Linked DNA regions of Homo sapiens. The protein of the gene in region 1 interacts with the protein of each later gene in a biochemical or structural test. Each region holds a gene or a part of one and is shown in the gene's direction. Other genes may lie near its edges.

Region 1 (2,634 bases):
TGGATGGGTAGGTGGATGGATGGATAGAGAGATATATGATGGTTAATGGATGAATGAGTAGATGATGACTAGATGGGTAGATGGATGGATGGATAGATGGATGGTTGGGTGGATGGATGGATGGATGGATGGGTAGCTGGTTGTGTGGTTTACACTTTAGCTCTGGAACCTACAGACCAGCCCTCCTTACCTCTACCCCTTTGTTTCTTTCTTCCAGGTTGTGGGCATTTTTGCAGGATTTGGGCTGCTGCTCTTGGTGGCCTCACCTTTCCTACTCCTGGCCACTCCCTTTGTACTTTGCTGCAAGTGCAAGTGCAGTAAAGGTGACGACGACCCGTTACCCACCTAGAGGAAGCGCGATGCTGGAACACATCCCTGCCTCCGGGAAGTGTGGCTCTCCCCCAACCCTCCCCACCGTCCCCCCTTCACTAAACATCTTTCTTGCCTTATGTGCCCCATTGAGCTTCACAGTGTCAGGCTGGACGCCGTGATTTCAGGGACCTATGTCACAATGTTCGCTGAGGCCCCAGGTGTGGTGGGGAGGGGAGGCAGGTGTGGGTAGCGCACATCCCCACAGATCAATCTCTGCAGATGACAGGGAGGTGCTGTGAGAAGTGCACCAGGCAGCTTTCTCTCTGTGGTAGACTAGGCATGTCTGGGGATGGCCTAAGAGACTTTCTGCTCCTTGGCTTCTAGATGGCACCATGTTGTCAGAGAAGTCTTTTAAGGACTGCCACTCTCTTCAGACAGAATCTGATTATTCCAGCTTGAGAGAAGCACTCTGTTTATGACAACTGTTTTTATTACTAATGGCATTTAGTAAAATCCTTTTTAGAAGGTATTTTTTTTCCAACTGAGTAGTGAAAATCAACAAGGTGCATATAAACCATCCTATGCCTTTCTTGAAATGTGCATTTTAAGAAGTTATAGTTAAACGACTTTTCAGGAGATTTAGAAAGCCTTATGCACTCTTTGTGTTTTTCTTGAAACTTGCTGTAGTAACTTTTTGAACGCTGTAAGCTGTGTACTGTTATAAGTGTGCTTCCTATATTGTTGCATTTCCTTGATAATATTGACGTGTTTAAAGGAACATCTCATCTCCATTAGATTTGCCTTTTGTTGTTTTCTCTCTTTGGTGATTCAGCTCAGCTCATGGGCCTCATCCCTTCTCTCCCAGGTAGCAGAAAACGCTTTTTATTGTATTCAATCCCACTGCTTTGCTCGGCAATGGTTCTCCTCCGAATTGCTGCCGTCTGGCCTCTGGCCTCAGTCTTCAGATAGACAGTAAGAAGAAAGCAGCCTCATTGATCCGCAGATGTAGGGGCCTCTTGGCAGAGGCTGGAGGACTCTGGGGGCTAGGGAAGAGCCTGCCAGATTTTCACATTTTTAAAATGTTCTAGTCATTTTGAGAAATCATATATCTTACACAGTTCCAAGTCCTGTTGCTAACCGTTTTGCTCTTGTTGGGGAAAAGAACCTCCCATTTCACTTCGTTTTAACGTGGGGATTTTACCACTTGATCTTTTACAGGGCTGTCTGTGACCATTTCCATGGCAGCAGGATGCAGGGATTAATAAGGACACATACACATTATTCCACCAATTGACTTTGAAAAGTGGAGAAAGTGTATTCTTTAAAGAGAATTTACTTCTAAAAGCCACAGGTGCTTTTACAAAGCAAACTGCATTGAATTTAAAACTTCTAAAAATAACAGGCAAATATTGTAGCTATATTACAGTGGGATTTTAAAAATCTTGTTAAACATTCTATAAAGAAGTAAAACAAAATCCTTTTATCTCAGTTATTTGCCCATCACAAGCACATTTTTAAAATGTTGCTTTGTGTGTGTTTGACTTCTGCATTTGAGTATCAGTCTCAGGTCCTAGTTTACTTTCCCTGGTTGGAAATTTATTTCTTATTTCCTAACATTGAATTCGTTAGAAAAAACAGCGTCACCTCACTCTTCACCTGTCATGTTGATTTTCCTTATGAACCCGAAGCCATTTAGAAAATCCCTGTGTGTCAAAATTACATTCAAAAAGCTCTCCTTGTAATTGCAAGTTTAGTAACTCAGTAAGAACATGCCTGCGACTCCCTTTCTGGATGGAACCTGGGCTGTGGCTCTCTGTCGTTTGTGGTGCTGTGATGGTGTCTACTGTTAGAATAGCTTTTCTGGAGGTGGGTGGCAACTCCACGCGGGAGTCATTGGCTGGGCTTGAGCCCTCAGCCTGTGATATGTGGATGCAGCTGTCCAGCCACTGCCCTTTAACATGCCCAGCACACATGGGAGGCCTGTGGCCCTGTGTCCAGTGGCCCACAGGACACGCCTCCACCATATGCTCATCCTTCCTGCCTGAAATTGCTGCTGCCCATCGCATGAGCCCACACAGTAGCACCCCCGTCCTTAGGATGAGAGTCAGAGCCTTTGGAAAGGCTGCATCCCCAGGGCTAGAGCTCAGATGACCTTATTTCTAGAGGGACAGGCTGTTCTGTTGGAAGAGTCTCTGGCCCAGTCATGCACATCTGTAGCCCCAGCCATCCTTGTGCCTTCACCTCTGATGTGTTTCACAAGCACGTAGTTCAACCCAGATAGGGACCACAGAGATTCTGGGGCCAGCCAGGGGCAGTCAAATT
Region 2 (3,500 bases), on another chromosome or scaffold:
ACAGGGACGAAGCAGCTTTCCATAAAACACCCACCAGTGTGCCATATCAGTTTACCATTGCCATGGCAATACCCGGAAGTTACCACCCCTTTCTGTGACAACAATCTGATGACCTAAAAGTTACCACCCCGTTTCTTAACATGTCTGCATAGTCTGCCCCTTAATTTGCATATAATTAAAAGTGGGTGTAAATATGACTTCAGAACTGCCTTTGAGCTGCTGCTCTCAGCACAGTGCCTGTGGGGTAGCCCTGCTCTGCAGGAGCAGTCACAGAGCCATAACACTGCTGCCTCAATAAAGCTGCTTTCTTCTACCACGAGCTCGCTCTTAAATGCTTTCCAGAGCGAAGCCAAGGACCCGCCCAGGCCAATCCCCAATTTAGGGCTGGCCTGCCCTGCATCAGTTTCACTGCTCTAAAAATCCCCTGTTTATCCCTCCTAATTCCTGACAACCACTGCTCTTTTTACTGTCTCCACAGTTTTCTCCTTTTATGTCTTCTCCCATGTCTTAGTACAGGTCACGTCAGGTGACATAGCAGAGCAGAAAGCAAAGCTATTAAAAGCTTTATTAGGAGAGGTAATCCTAGGGCAGCAAGAGAGAGGGAGGAAGGGGAGGCAGGAGGGCAAGCACAGTGCCATACGCTGTCAAGCTGGCCATGGCTTCATGAGAAACAGCCAATGGCTTGGTCATGCAGGATGCCCTCACGCAAGTCCTTTGCCACTAAGCTTCAGAAAAGCCCCTCGGAGCAGGAGGAAGGGAGCAGCATTATCCATTGGTTCTTTCTGCCTCTTGTTTCTCATTGGTTTTAGCTCGCTGGAGGTGCTGTGGTTCTCTGCACTTCCAGACTGTGTTCCTGGCCTCTGCACAGTCACGCCCTGCAGCCAGAGCTGCCTCTAGATCTGGAAGTGGCGGGAGGACTCTCAGTCCCTGGTTTTGAAAGAGTTGGCCTGTTGGTGACAGTGCTGTGTTTGTTACTGTGGTGGTCACTACAGGGTGGGTATGCCAGGGTGTGGCCCTTACCCTGAGGCAGTGACAGTGCTAGGGAACAAGGCTGTGGCACCAGCAGCCACTGTCAGGTAGCCCACCCTGGGGATACAGATGAACTACATCCAGTACGTGTAATTTTATGGTTCCTTATTTCTTTTAACATCTAAATGTTTACTCTATTTGAGAGTTATCCCGGTGTGTGCTGATGTGTGGTGTGAGGCGTGACTCCAGTTTTATTTTTTTCCAGATGATGATCTAGTTTCCCTACTTTGTTTTTTTGTTGTTGTTTTTGTTTTTGTTTTGTTTTCGAGATGGAGTCTCACTCTGTTGCCCAGGCTGGAGTGCTGTGGCATGGTCTTGGCTCACTGCCACCTCCGCCTCCCGGGTTCAGGCGATTCTCCTGCCTCAGCCTCCCGAGTAGCGTGGTGCCTGCCACCATGCCCAGCTAATTTTTTGTACTTTGTTTATTGGCTTATTCATCTCCCCCATTGAGAGGTGTCTTGTATCATGCACAAAATCTCTGTATTTTGGGGTCCTTTTAAAAATTTCTGTTCCATTGTCTGTTTAACCTTTTTTTATATGTAAACTTTTTTCGTTGTTGTTGGAGACGGATTCTCGCTCTGTCACCCAAGCTGGGGTGCAGTGGTGTGATCTCGGCTCACCGTAAGCTCCGCCTCCCAGGTTCATGACATTCTTCTGTATGTAGACTTTTTTTCTTATAGCAGTTTTAGGTTCACAGCAAAATTGAGTAAAGTACAGAGTTTCCATATACCCGCTAGCCCTACCCACCCCACACATACACAGACTTTTGTCCACAATCAACATCGCCACCAGAGTGGTCCATGGTTATAGCTGATGAGCTACATTGACACATCGTTATCGGAGTGGTCCATGGTTATAACTGATGAGCCACATTGACACATCGTTATCCCTCGAGGTCTGTAGTTTACATGAGGGCTCACTCTTTGCATTGTACATTCTGTCAGTTTTAACAAACATACATTGACATGCATGTACCTTTATGGTAGCCTCCAGAGTCCTTTCACTGCCTGGGAAATCTCTGTGCTTTGCCTAGTCATTCCTCCCTCCCCTCTAACCTCCAGTAACCACTGATCTTTTTGCTTTCTCCATAGTTTTTCCTTTTCCAGAATATAATATAGTTGGAATCATACAGAAGGTAGCCTTTTCAGATTGGCTTCTCTCACTAGCAATGTGCTCTTAAGATTCCTCCATGTCGAGCCGGGCACGGTGGCTCACATCTGTAATCCCAGCACTTTGGGAGGCCGAGCCCAGCAGATTACGAGGTCAGGAGTTCGAGACCAGCCTGGCCAATATGGTGAAACCCTGTCTCTATTAAAAATACAAAAATTAGCCGGTGTGGTGGTGTGCACCTGTAGTCCCAGCTACTCGGGAGGCCGAGACAGGAGAATTGGTTGTACTGGGAGGCGGAGGTTGCAGTGAGCCGAGATCATGCCACTGCACTCCAGCCTGGCAACAGAGCGAAACTCCATCTCAAAAAAAAAAAAAAAAAAAGATTCCTCCATGTCTTGTCGTATTGATAGCTCATTTCTTTTTATTACTGAATAATATTCCATTGTCTGGATTACCACAGTTTGTTTATTCATTGACCTGCTGAAGGACATCTTGATTGCTTCCAAGTTTTGGTGATTATGAACAAAGCTGCTAGAAACACCCACCATGTGCAGGTTTTTATGGGGACATAAGTTTTCAACTCCTTTGGGTAATCAAGGAGTACAATTGCTGGATCATGTGGTAAGAGTATATTTAGTTTTGTAAGAAACTGCCAAGCTGTCTTTCAAAAAGCTGAATCATTTTCCATTCCCACCAGCAATAGATGAGAGTTCGTATCATTATACATCTTTGCCAGCATTTGGTGTTATCATTGTTTTGGATTTTGGCCATTCCAATAGATATATAGTATTTTATTATTGTTTTAATTTGCATTTCCCTAATACTGTAATTATCTTGAACATCTTCTCATACGTTTATTTACCATCTGTATATCTTTGGTGAAATGTCTTTTGCCTGCCCCTACCCCCACTTTTTTTTTTTTTTTTTAAGACTGTCTTGCTCCGTCGCCCAGGCTAGAGTGCAGTGGTGTGATCACAGTTCGCTGCAGCCTTGACCTCTGTCTCCCACCTCAGCCTCTTGAGTAGCTGGGACTACAGGTGCGCACCACCATGCCTGGCTAATTTTTTTAAATTTTTTGTAGAGACAGGGCCCCACCTTGTTGCCCAGACTGGTCTCAAACTCCTGGTTTTGCTCTTTTTAAAATCACATTGTTTGTTTTCTTACTGTTGAGTCCTAAGAGTTCTTGGTATATTTTGGATAACAGCCCTTTGTCATATGTCTTTTGAAAATATTTTTTCTCAGTGTGTGGCTGGTCTTCCGCAGAGCAGAAGTTCTTAATTTTGTGAAGTCTAGTTAATCAGTTACTTCTTTAGTGGATTGGGCTTTTGGTGTTTGTAAAAAGTCATCACCAGACCCAAGGT
Region 3 (2,410 bases), on another chromosome or scaffold:
CAGAGTCTCGCTCTGTTGCCCAAGCTAGAGTGCAGTGGCACGATCTCGGCTCACTGCAACTGCCGTCTCCCGGGTTCAAGCGATTCTCCTGCCTCAGCCTCCTGAGTAGCTGGGACTCTAGGCATGGGCCACCATGCCTGGCTAATTTTTGTATTTTTAGTAGAGACGGGGTTTCACCATGTTGCCCAGGCTGGTCTTGAGCTCCTGACCTCAGGTGATCTGCCTGGCTAGCATTTGCATTTTAATCCATTTCTTGTAATGCTGAATGAACAATATGAGCCCTTAATAAAGGAATTGACCAGGTGCAGTGGCTTCATGCCTGTCATCCTAGCACTTTTGGGAGGATGAGGCGGTAGGATCACTCAAGCCCAGGAGTTTGAGACCAGCCTGGGCAACATAGTGAGACCCCATCTCTACAAAAAACTAGGCCAGGAGCAGTGGCTAACACCCGTAATCCCAACTACTCTCAAGGCCAAGGTGGGAGGATTGTTTGAGCCCAGGAGATAAGACTGCAGTGAGCTGTGATTGCACCACTGTACTCTAGCCTAGGTTAAAAAAAAAAATTAGCTGGACGTGATGGCATGTGCTTGTAGTCTCAGCTACTCAGGAAGCTGAGGCAGGAGGATCATTTACACCCAGGAGTTTGAGGGTACCGTGCAGTAAAGTATGATTGAGCCACTGCACTCCAGTCTGAGTGACAGCAAGACTGTCTAAAAAAAATAAGAAGGAATTTGTGGCATCAGCAGTTCGGAGAAGAGGGGCACTGTTTTACAGTGGGAAGGAACATTCTGAGGGTGCTGGTCCTGACAGGGTCAGGGGGCAACTGTGGCAAAGTATGTGAGGAGGTGTGGGTAGCAGCTGCTTCTGATTCCCCACTATCCTTCCACCCTGGGGCACGTCTGGGCTACGGCACCTAGGGGGAGTACTGTGGCACCCATCAGAGCCATCAGCGTGACATCTGCCTGTGGTCTTGACAATGTGATGCGATGGCGGTTGTCAGCTTCCCATTGGCTGGCCCCAGTGACCCTTTCTAGAGGGTTCAGAAACTCCTAAGGGTCTTCCAGAGTTGGGTCATTGCGCATTGACAAGTGCAGCGCCATCACATACCCTTCTCTCTAGTGCCCACTCAGTCACCTTAACCGAAACTTCCCTGAGCCGAGCATGGTGCTGGGTGCTGGGCTGATGCAGGGAAGTTCTACCCGGTCCTGCCCTGAAGAAAGTGACCCTGTGTGCATGCATGAGAGTGAGCAGTCAGTTCAATACTAGGCCTCCTATCTCCAGAGTACACAAGAGGACTGGATTAGCCGGGCATGGTGGTGCACGACTGTAGTCCTGGCTACTTGGGGGACTGAGGCTGGAGGATTGCTTGAGGTCAACCCAGGAGGTTGAGGCTGCAGTGAGCCAAGATGGTGCCACTGCACTGCAGCCTAGGTGACAGAGTGAGACCCTGTCCCTCCTCCCCAACCCCCCGCCAAGAAAAAAGGGCTGGGAGTGACTGAGGGCTAAGACCTCCCCAGGTGTTAGGTCAGGAAGGCTTCCTGGAGGCGGAAGCACATCACTGTGAACAATTATCCACTGTAGTGTTAGCTATTTGTTGTCCATCAGTGTCTTCTAATCACAGAGGAAAGATGAGTTTTCTGGCAGTCAGAATTTTGGATAAATAGGAGGCAGCTTTGGCTTAAAAGCACATTAGCTGTAAATCAGTTGTAAAGCCAGAGTTTTGTTCCCGGATTAGCTGCCTCTTGCCTGTGCCATTTCTGAGACTGTGTTAACCCCCCATGCCTTGTCCTTCTCTTGGCAGTAATCCAGTCCCTCATAGCACTGGTGAATGACCCCCAGCCTGAGCACCCGCTTCGGGCTGACCTAGCTGAAGAATACTCTAAGGACCGTAAAAAATTCTGTAAGAATGCTGAAGAGTTTACAAAGAAATATGGGGAAAAGCGACCTGTGGACTAAAATCTGCCACGATTGGTTCCAGCAAGTGTGAGCAGAGACCCCGTGCAGTGCATTCAGACACCCCGCAAAGCAGGACTCTGTGGAAATTGACACGTGCCACCGCCTGGCGTTCGCTTGTGGCAGTTACTAACTTTCTACAGTTTTCTTAATCAAAAGTGGTCTAGGTAACCTGTAAAGAAAGGATTAAAAATTTAAGATGTTCTAGTTCTGCTCTCTTTGTTTTAAAAATCACTGCTTCAATCTACTTCAAAAGAATGGTGTTTCTTTTCTTGTCCAATTTTATCCAAAATCTTCAAGTTACATTTAACCCATAAGGTTTAAAAAAAAGGAAAAAAAACGGTTGTGGTTCCCTTTCTTCCCTACCCTTGCCACTCCCACTTTCTGGCACCGAGTTTATTTTTCACTTACTTACTTCCCCAGACCCCGGGCTCGCCTCCACAAAGGAGAAGAGACT

The links.
Region 2: the proteins of RNF144A (region 1) and PARP1 form a complex in vitro, tested with the Homo sapiens proteins (one study listed by BioGRID).
Region 3: the proteins of RNF144A (region 1) and UBE2L3 form a complex in vitro, tested with the Homo sapiens proteins (3 studies listed by BioGRID).

The regions. Positions count from the first base shown.
Region 1 is NC_000002.12:7,039,412-7,042,045, forward strand, and holds part of RNF144A (E3 ubiquitin-protein ligase RNF144A), read left to right. Parts: intron 1-217; coding exon 218-349; 3' UTR 350-2,634. UniProt on the Homo sapiens protein: E3 ubiquitin-protein ligase which accepts ubiquitin from E2 ubiquitin-conjugating enzymes UBE2L3 and UBE2L6 in the form of a thioester and then directly transfers the ubiquitin to targeted substrates.
Region 2 is NC_000001.11:226,398,094-226,401,593, reverse strand, and holds part of PARP1 (poly [ADP-ribose] polymerase 1), read left to right. Parts: intron 1-3,500. UniProt on the Homo sapiens protein: Poly-ADP-ribosyltransferase that mediates poly-ADP-ribosylation of proteins and plays a key role in DNA repair.
Region 3 is NC_000022.11:21,619,714-21,622,123, forward strand, and holds part of UBE2L3 (ubiquitin-conjugating enzyme E2 L3), read left to right. Parts: intron 1-1,801; coding exon 1,802-1,956; 3' UTR 1,957-2,410. UniProt on the Homo sapiens protein: Ubiquitin-conjugating enzyme E2 that specifically acts with HECT-type and RBR family E3 ubiquitin-protein ligases.